Homo sapiens: one gene and its partner. The protein of the gene in region 2 interacts with the protein of the main gene of each other region in a pairwise test. Each region holds a gene or a part of one and is shown on either strand. Other genes may lie near its edges.

Region 1 (4,268 bases), on a different chromosome or scaffold from region 2:
ACTTCCCCCTACCCCAGAATAAAAGTAGGGTACTGAATATTCATCATAGATTTCTCTAAATTTTAAAGCAAACTTTCCTAAATAAGCTTAAATGTAGGTTTAATACAGAACTACTCATTATAACACTTGTTCTTTCTTTAAAACTTGACCAATTCCACATTTGCTCCTTTTCCCAAATTACATTTTTCCCTTACAATAATTTTCCACACAGAAAATTTATAAAGATTTTTCAAAGTCTACTTTTTATCTCATTTTCTTTTTCAACTGTCATGTTCATTCGATTAATGACGCAACGTTATTTAAAAAACAATATTTCGACATTGCTATTTTCGTGCTACATTCGATCTCATAATACCCCCCAACCTAGAGAAACATTCTAAATCCGACCGGCAATGTCATTATTTTTAAATTAGTAATTAAGCGAACGTTATATTTCCATATGGAAACCACTACAAAAATAACGTGCTTTCTAGCCCAACAATAGCTAATTATGTATTAAGCTAATTGAGACAAACCATGTAAACAAAATCTAAAGATAGACTATTCGGCGGTAGAAGCTATGATGTAAACCACATTTCTGTGGCATGTTGGAATGCACACTGAAGAAGCAGGCATGTTCCTTGCACATGTATACTTCGGGATATCAGCTCTTATAACAAGAGGGTGCACTCAACACCTCGTCTATCCCACAATATTTGGAACAGAAATACCTTAGTTTTTTATTAACGTGCTACCACTACAATACGCTTATATGCAGGTATCTGCTCTAGGTTTAGTTTTCCCCTTTCTGAACTATATGTTCATAGTCTCTCTTAAGTAAATACATGGGCATTGTTTTAAACACAGGAAATAATGATGAATGGTTCATGCGATATAACGATCTCACAATATGAAATTATCTGGACTATATAATCACTGCACCCAGTTAAAAATTATTTTTCAAATAGTAACCTACAAAGGTCAAAATGGGGGGAGGGGACAGGTTATCTGTCTTGGAACTCAGAGGGCAAGAGAGAAAGGAAAAGTCTGTGCAAAGCATATGGTGAAATAACCAGTGTTCTTAACCACACATCGCTTTGATAAATACATTTTTGTCCTAAAGAGGGCCGCCCTTTCACATTGCAAACACGGACACTGGCGGGGATCGAGGGGACATATCCTTGCAGCCTTTGGACAGGTTCCAGTAACACTTGCAGACAAATGAAGGTTTGCATTCTTGAAACCTATCCATATGGATGCAGTTCCCAAATCCCTGCTGCCTCTACCACTTCCAAATGCGTGCAAGGAGAGTCGGACACACGCACAAGCATGCAGAACAGGATCTCAATTCCAGCACGCACACCGCGAAGTAGACAAGTGAATTCTGCTGCTGGAGTCAACTGTCCGCCCGCCCCCGCCGTTTAAAAACACGCAAAAATTAACCTCGCTATTAGGAGGCTATGCTGAGGAAGTGTTCCAAAGAGGAGAACCGGTGCAGTCCAGCGGCCGCTGCCTCGCGAGTGCAGACTCTCCCCGGGTCAGTAAAGATGCGCACTAGGCTAGGTACCTTCGCCCAAGTGTTACTCGAAGTGCCAAATTTGCCTTCTCGCCCCCTGAAATGCAATCCGAACTTGCGGCCCCACTGCGAGGTTGGCGGGTGCCAGCTTTAGCCTTCTTAGAAATGACAGGAAACCAAATGGGGAGATGGGAGACAAACGCTCAACACACGAGTGCGCTCACAAACACACCCGGAGCCCAGTAGCTCCTCATGCTCGGGCACTTTGGAGCCTCAGATCCGGCAGTGGCGAAGAGAGAATCGAAGCGAGGGAGAGCGGGGTGGGACGTCCCCGACTCTCTCCCGGCCACCGCTCGCATGATTCCCGTCCCTTTCGGGGCACTTGAGTGCCAGCGGGCGTTCCCCACCCTCAGTCCCAGAACTCCAACTCCGCACCAGATCGCGCTGTCGGAATTCAAGTGCCCCCATCTTCCCCAAATCAACAGCCTCTCTCGTCCCTACCCAGCCCCTTCTTTGGACTCCAAACACAAGACCTCTCCTACCCGCGCCGAAAACTTTTTCCTCCTTTCGCAACGAGATAAGGCAAGAAACCAGGTCAGCCGCTACCGCCACCCGCTCTGCCCAGCGCCTGGGTGGCGGGCGCCGTCCCTACCTGGCAGCTGCGCTCCAGGTGGCTGTCCCACGCCGGTCTCCGCGCCTGCCCGGTGCGCGGGTGGCGTCCGCTCCACCTTCCCTTCGTCTCCTCCGGCTCCGCGTTCAGGGAGCGACTGTCCTTAAGATCGTGCCCCCCTGCCCGGAGCCGCCCTTCAGTTCATCGCCCGTCTTCCCAGAAGCGCTGCTGCGGCCCCGGCGGACTGATGAGGAGCCTGGAGATCCGCGATGGCACCGATGGCCCCGCGGTGTGCGCTCCGGGGTCTGAGAGCGCTCCGCCCGCGGGCAGCTGCGGCCGCGCGTCACATGCCGCCTCCGGGCAGCGGCCGCGGCACCTGCCCAAGCGGCAGCGCTCCCGGCTCGGCAGTGCCGCCCCCGCGCCCTGTGCTCCCCTGCACGCTCCGGCCCTTTCTGTTCACGCCCTTTTCCCTCTGTCTCCCGCCTCACTTTTTCTCTTCTTTCCGTCTCCTTCTTTATCGTGTATTCCCTTTCTCCAAAAGCAGAGAGAAGGCGCTCCAAGGGGGAGGAGAGGTCTTTTCCTCCCCACGAACTCTTCCTCTGCCTGGTGGTGGCGGTCGTGGCTACTGCTGGCCGCTCCTCCTCTCCTTCCTCCTCGCGTTCCTCCTGCTCCTCCTCCTCCCCGGACTGAGAGAGCTGGTGTAATGCACAGGCTGCGTGCTTGAGACCAAAACCTGCCCGGCTTCTGAGCATGCCCAGTTGCCCTGCCGGCGCCTAGCTCCATTCCCGCGTGCCCGCTGGGCTCCGCGTTCTCCGCCTGGCAGGGGGCGAGGAGATCCCAGGGTACTCCTGGGGTGGGTTGGCTGAAAGCGGAACACCAAGCAGGAGAGAGGGGGGCCTCACCCACCCAGCATGGCCTCACCTGTTCCCAAATTGTGCCTCCCGCGGCGCTTCAAAGATAGATTTTGCCGGTCTGTTAGTTTTGTTGTGTTCGCTTTTAAATTGGTTTCCCTGGACTGCTTAGAAGGACTGGAAGGAATTCGATTCCTTGGGCACAACTTATCGATGAGTGAACTTCAGCTCAGTTACAATATACGACTCCATGGCAAACCTTTCTCTAAGGAACAGTCTGATGCATCTACTTTTTGACATTTAGTGAGTCTGTTTCTGCAGAGCAGTGTAATAGAGGACGACTTGACTTTTCCCTCCCTGGACAGTTACACCTTGGGAGAAAATAAGACAAGCATCCATGAAGAAGACACTGACGTGCACGCGCGCGCGCGCGCGCGTACACACACACACACACACACACACACACACACACACACACACACTTTTTTAAATCAGAAAATAAAATGAAAGATATAACATTGCTAGCCAGTCTTTTAAAGCTCAAGAGGAATGAAAATCTAAGAAAGAAAGAAAGAAAGAAAGAAAGAAAGAAAGAAAGAAAGAGAGAGAGACAGAAAAGGTTATTATGTACTACTGCCAGCTAACTATGTAAGGAAAAAGTGGAGAGATACCAAATTTGAAAAGATACCAATGAGGCTGTCCCACGGCACTCTCGAGGTTTTGTTTAAAAAGCACATAAGGAAAGATAACAGAGGAATCTCACAAGAAAGGACAAGCATAACAATGATAACTGAAAAAGAAGAAAAGAAAGAAAAAGGAAGGAAGGAGGAAGATAAAAAGAAGAAAAAAGCAAGAAATTGAAGCATAGTATGAAATGAAATATTTAACAATATTAAAGGCAGCAAATGATTTTAATTCTATTTGGAACAAGAAGATAAATAGGAAAAGATAGAGCTCTTTGAAAAATTAAGTAATTCTAAGAGATTAGAGAAACACCAGTATATGAATTCCTTTCTGAACCTATATTCTTCTCTAGGTAGAACAATCTTTAGGAGAGAAGAGACTAAACTTTGCGTAGAAAAGATTGAGATCATGCTGGGAAAATAGCTAGTGAGAAAGCATGTGGCTACTTAAATTAATTAAAATATCTAGGCTTAGGTAAATTGCATCCAGGATACTAGAATAGTAATAATAATAACAATATTGTAGCCTTTTTATTGGGATACCTCTCAGAAGAAAATATAACAGTTACTTTCAGATACTTCTTTAATCTTTAAAACAATCAAATGAGTATTTTATCCTTGTGTACTAA
Region 2 (3,813 bases):
CCAGCTACTCGGGAGGCCGAGGCAGGAGAATCACTTGAACCCAGGAGGCAGAGGTTGCAGTGAGTTGAGATGGCGCCACTGCATTCCAGCCTGGTGACAGAGACTCCATCTCAAAAAAAAAAAAAAAAAAAAAAGACAGAATTGGATGATAAACACAGAAATAGATTGTGATAACTACAATGCTGTGAGGAAAAATAAAGGTCAAGGTGTGGAGACTATCAGAAGAGAGGGGATTTATATCAAGTGTTCAGGAGAAGCTCTTTAGAATATGGGTTAGGGACACCTGAGCAAAGACCAAAAGGAACTGAGGGCTCATGGCTACCTGAGGGAAAGGAGATCCAGGGAGAAGCAGCCCCAAGTTGGGAGCACACTGGGCATGCTGAAACAGCTGCAAGGCAGCCAGCAGGCTGGAGGGGCTGGGGAATGAGAAGGAAAGAGTGGGAGGAAACAGCCTGAATGGTGGGAGAAGACACAGCAGGGGACTACGAGGCCTCACAGTGTGGTGGATTCTGGGCTTCATTCTCAGTGAGCTGGGAAAGTAGGGGAGGGCTCTGAGCCCTCTCTGGCTGTCTTGCAGAGGTGGTGGTGGACATAGAGGAGGCTGTTGGATTAGTCAGGGTGAAAGGTATGTTGACTTTCCTATGGTGGGAACACTGAGAAATGGTCAGATTATGGATATATTTTATCATATTTTTTTTTTTAGAGACAAGGTCCCTCTATGTTGCCCAGGCTGGTCTTGAATTCCTGAGCTTAAGTGATCCTCCTGCCTCAGCCTCCCAAAGTGCTGTGATTACAGGTGTGAGCCACCACACCCAGCCAGATTCTGGATATAGAGTCTGCAGGGTTGAGCTCTTTAATGCTACACACACATATAAATGTATGTAATGTATATAAGTATATATAAACACGCCACTTCTCCCACTGGCTATAAAGCCCAGCCGGATGTGAATTGTTAAGCTGGGTGGGCAGGTTTTTCCTGCCTCTGGTCGCTATGGAAACCTTCCTGAAAGCAGCCATCTGGGAGTTGGCAGGAACAGCCCAGAGAGTTAGCCACGTCAGGGTGGCTGCCCTCCTGTTGTCACAGGAGTACTGAGAGGCAGAAAGTTGAAAAACAGGATTGATTTAGGAACCTTTGAGGAGCTCTAGAAAGAATTTTTCAAAATTAAATGTACATACTCCCTAGTTTGCTAATCTTACAATTTCCTATAAGGCAAATTTTGTTTAAAAAGCACAGAAGGTCAGATCTTACTATACACCCTGTTTTCCCCCATCTATGGGGAGGGGCAGAAAAGGTTCTGTCCATTTCCTGTGGTCTCTTCATATAGATCAGAGGGATATGGCCCCCCATTCACTCTGGTCCTCCTGTCCTGTCCTGTGTCCTATTTTCTTAACAACACAGCATAGTTGCTACTACTACAGAGATGGTTTTCTACAGACATTTACCATGGAACATGAAAGCTGTAAGCAACATAAGCAAAAATACTTCTTTTTTTTTTTTTTTTTTTTTTTTGAGACAGAGTCTCACTCTGTCGCCCAGGCTGGAGTGCAGTGGCGCAATCTCAGCTCACTGCAACCTCCACCTCCCAGGTTCAAGCGATTCTCCTGCCTCAGCCTCCCAGGTAGCTGGGATCACAGGCATGTGCCACCACGCCTGGCTAATTTTTTGTATTTTTAGTAGAGTTGGGGTTTCGCCGTGTTGGCCAGGCTGGTCTCAAACTTCTGACCTCAAGTGAGCCACCCGCCTCGGCCTCCCAAAGTGCTGGGATTACAGGTGTGAGCCACCGCACCCGGCCTGAGCAAAAATACTTCTAAGAGGCCTCTCAGATGCTGAAGACTGCATTTCCTCTGTGAGGAGGGGAAGAGGACACTTGAAGCTATCGATAAAAACTCACCTAGATAGAGAAGCACAAAGCCGGGAAAGTCCAAGAAAGGCTGGAGTAAAAAAAGATTAATGTGGCTTCTATAGATGCTAAAAAGGGGTAAAATCAGACAATAAATGCTCAAAGAAACATGAACATTTTTTAGAAAAGGAAAAAATATATGAATACCTTTTTCAAGGTAAGGGTACCAAATACTGGTTTTCTTCCTGGTTTTTCTCCTTGGCGCCTATTCTTCAGCACACCTCTAAAATGTACGTGGCTCCAATCTGGCTGCTACGTGGGCAAATAGCTTGTAGAGAGACAAGAGTGGATGCTTGCAGGCAAGTGTGGCGTGCAGAGGAAAGATTACGGAGAATGAGGCTGAAGTGACAGTGGAGAAAAAGAGAAGCAACAGATTCAAGACACAATCAGAGGTAGAATCAACAGGCCTTGCCGCAGAGTTGGATGTGGGGAATGAGAATGGGAGTGGCCACAGGCAAGGCCTAGGTTTCCAGTCTGTACTCCTGGGCTTATGATGATGCCATTTCCTAATATGAGAGAAATGGGAACAAAACAGGTTTGGGGAGGGGGGAAGTTAAGAAGTTAAGAGTTACGGGGCAGGGGCTGGGCACAGTGGCTCATACCTGTAATCCCAGCAGTTTGGGAGCCCGAGATGGGCAGATCACCTGAGGTCAGGAGTTCGAGACCAACCTGGCCAACATGGTGAAACCCCGTCTCCACTAAAATTACAAAAATTAGCTGGGCGTGGTGGCAGGCACCTATAATCCCAGCTACTTGGGAGGCTGAAGCAGGAGAATTGGTTCAGCCTGGGAGGTGGAGGTTGCGGTGAGCTGAGATCGTGCCACTGCACTCCAGCCTGGGCGACAGAGTGAGATCCTGTCTAAAAAAAAAAAAAAAGAGTTATGGGGTAATTTAAATGCTTATTTAGAAATCCAAGTGGAGCTGTTAAGTAGGTGATTACATCTATAAATCTATGTTTATGGGGAGATGTCAGAGGTAGAAACGTCAATTTGGGAGTTTTTCATTCATCTATCCAACCAACAAAAAAAATTTTTTGCAACTACTATATCCCAAACACTGTTCCATGTGTTAGAGATATAGCAGTAAAACAAGATGGACAAAGTTCTTGCTTTCATGAACCTGCAATTTCTTCTGTAAAATGGAAATAATACCTATACTACTTATGAGGTTAAGTGAGAAAATGTAGTACTTGTAACAATATTCAGCACGTGGCATGTGCTTAATAAATGCCAGTTATTATTAGTTACAGAAAACAGACAATAAATATGTAAATAATTTCAGAATAATAATACATGCCATGAAGAAAACAGAACAATAGGTTACAAAGTGGCAGGTAGGAGTGGAGGGGTTATTTTTAATTGGTGGTTGGGGAAGGCCTCTCTCAGGAAATGACTTTTCAGCTCACATGAGAATAACGATCAGGTCTGTGAAGATCTAGAAGAGTAGTGATGAGGGGGAAAGTAGCAGATAACGTTGGAAAAGGAGGCAGGAACTAGCTGACAGATGGCCCTTCTAGCCATGGCAAAAACTGGAATTTTTTTTTTTTTTTTTTTTTTGAGACAGGAGTCTTACTCTGTCACCCAGGCTAGAGTGCAGTGGCACAATCTCACTCACTGCAACCTCCACCTCCCGGGTTCAAGCGATTTTCCTGCCTCAGCCTCCCAAGTAGCTGGGATTACAGGTGCCCACCACCGCACCCGGCTAATTTTTGTATTTTTAGTAGAGATGGGGTTTCACTATGTTGGCCAGGCTGGTCTCGAACTCCTGACCTCGTGATCCACCCGCCTCAGCCTCCCAAAGGGCTGGGATTATAGGCGTGAGCCATCATGCCTGGCCAGTCTCCAAGTTCTTGGACCTGAGCAACTGTGCAGGTCCCATCAACTAAGACAAGGGAAGCCTGCTGAAAGAGCAG

The links.
Region 1: the proteins of SGSM3 (region 2) and CHRM3 interact in a two-hybrid assay, tested with the Homo sapiens proteins (one large-scale study listed by BioGRID and IntAct).

Annotation. Positions count from the first base shown.
Region 1 is NC_000001.11:239,385,107-239,389,374, reverse strand, and holds the start of CHRM3 (muscarinic acetylcholine receptor M3), read right to left. Parts: upstream 2,808-4,268; 5' UTR 2,148-2,807; intron 2,135-2,147; exon of another isoform or gene 2,038-2,134; intron 1-2,037.
Region 2 is NC_000022.11:40,394,290-40,398,102, reverse strand, and holds part of SGSM3 (small G protein signaling modulator 3), read right to left. Parts: intron 1-3,813. UniProt on the Homo sapiens protein: May play a cooperative role in NF2-mediated growth suppression of cells.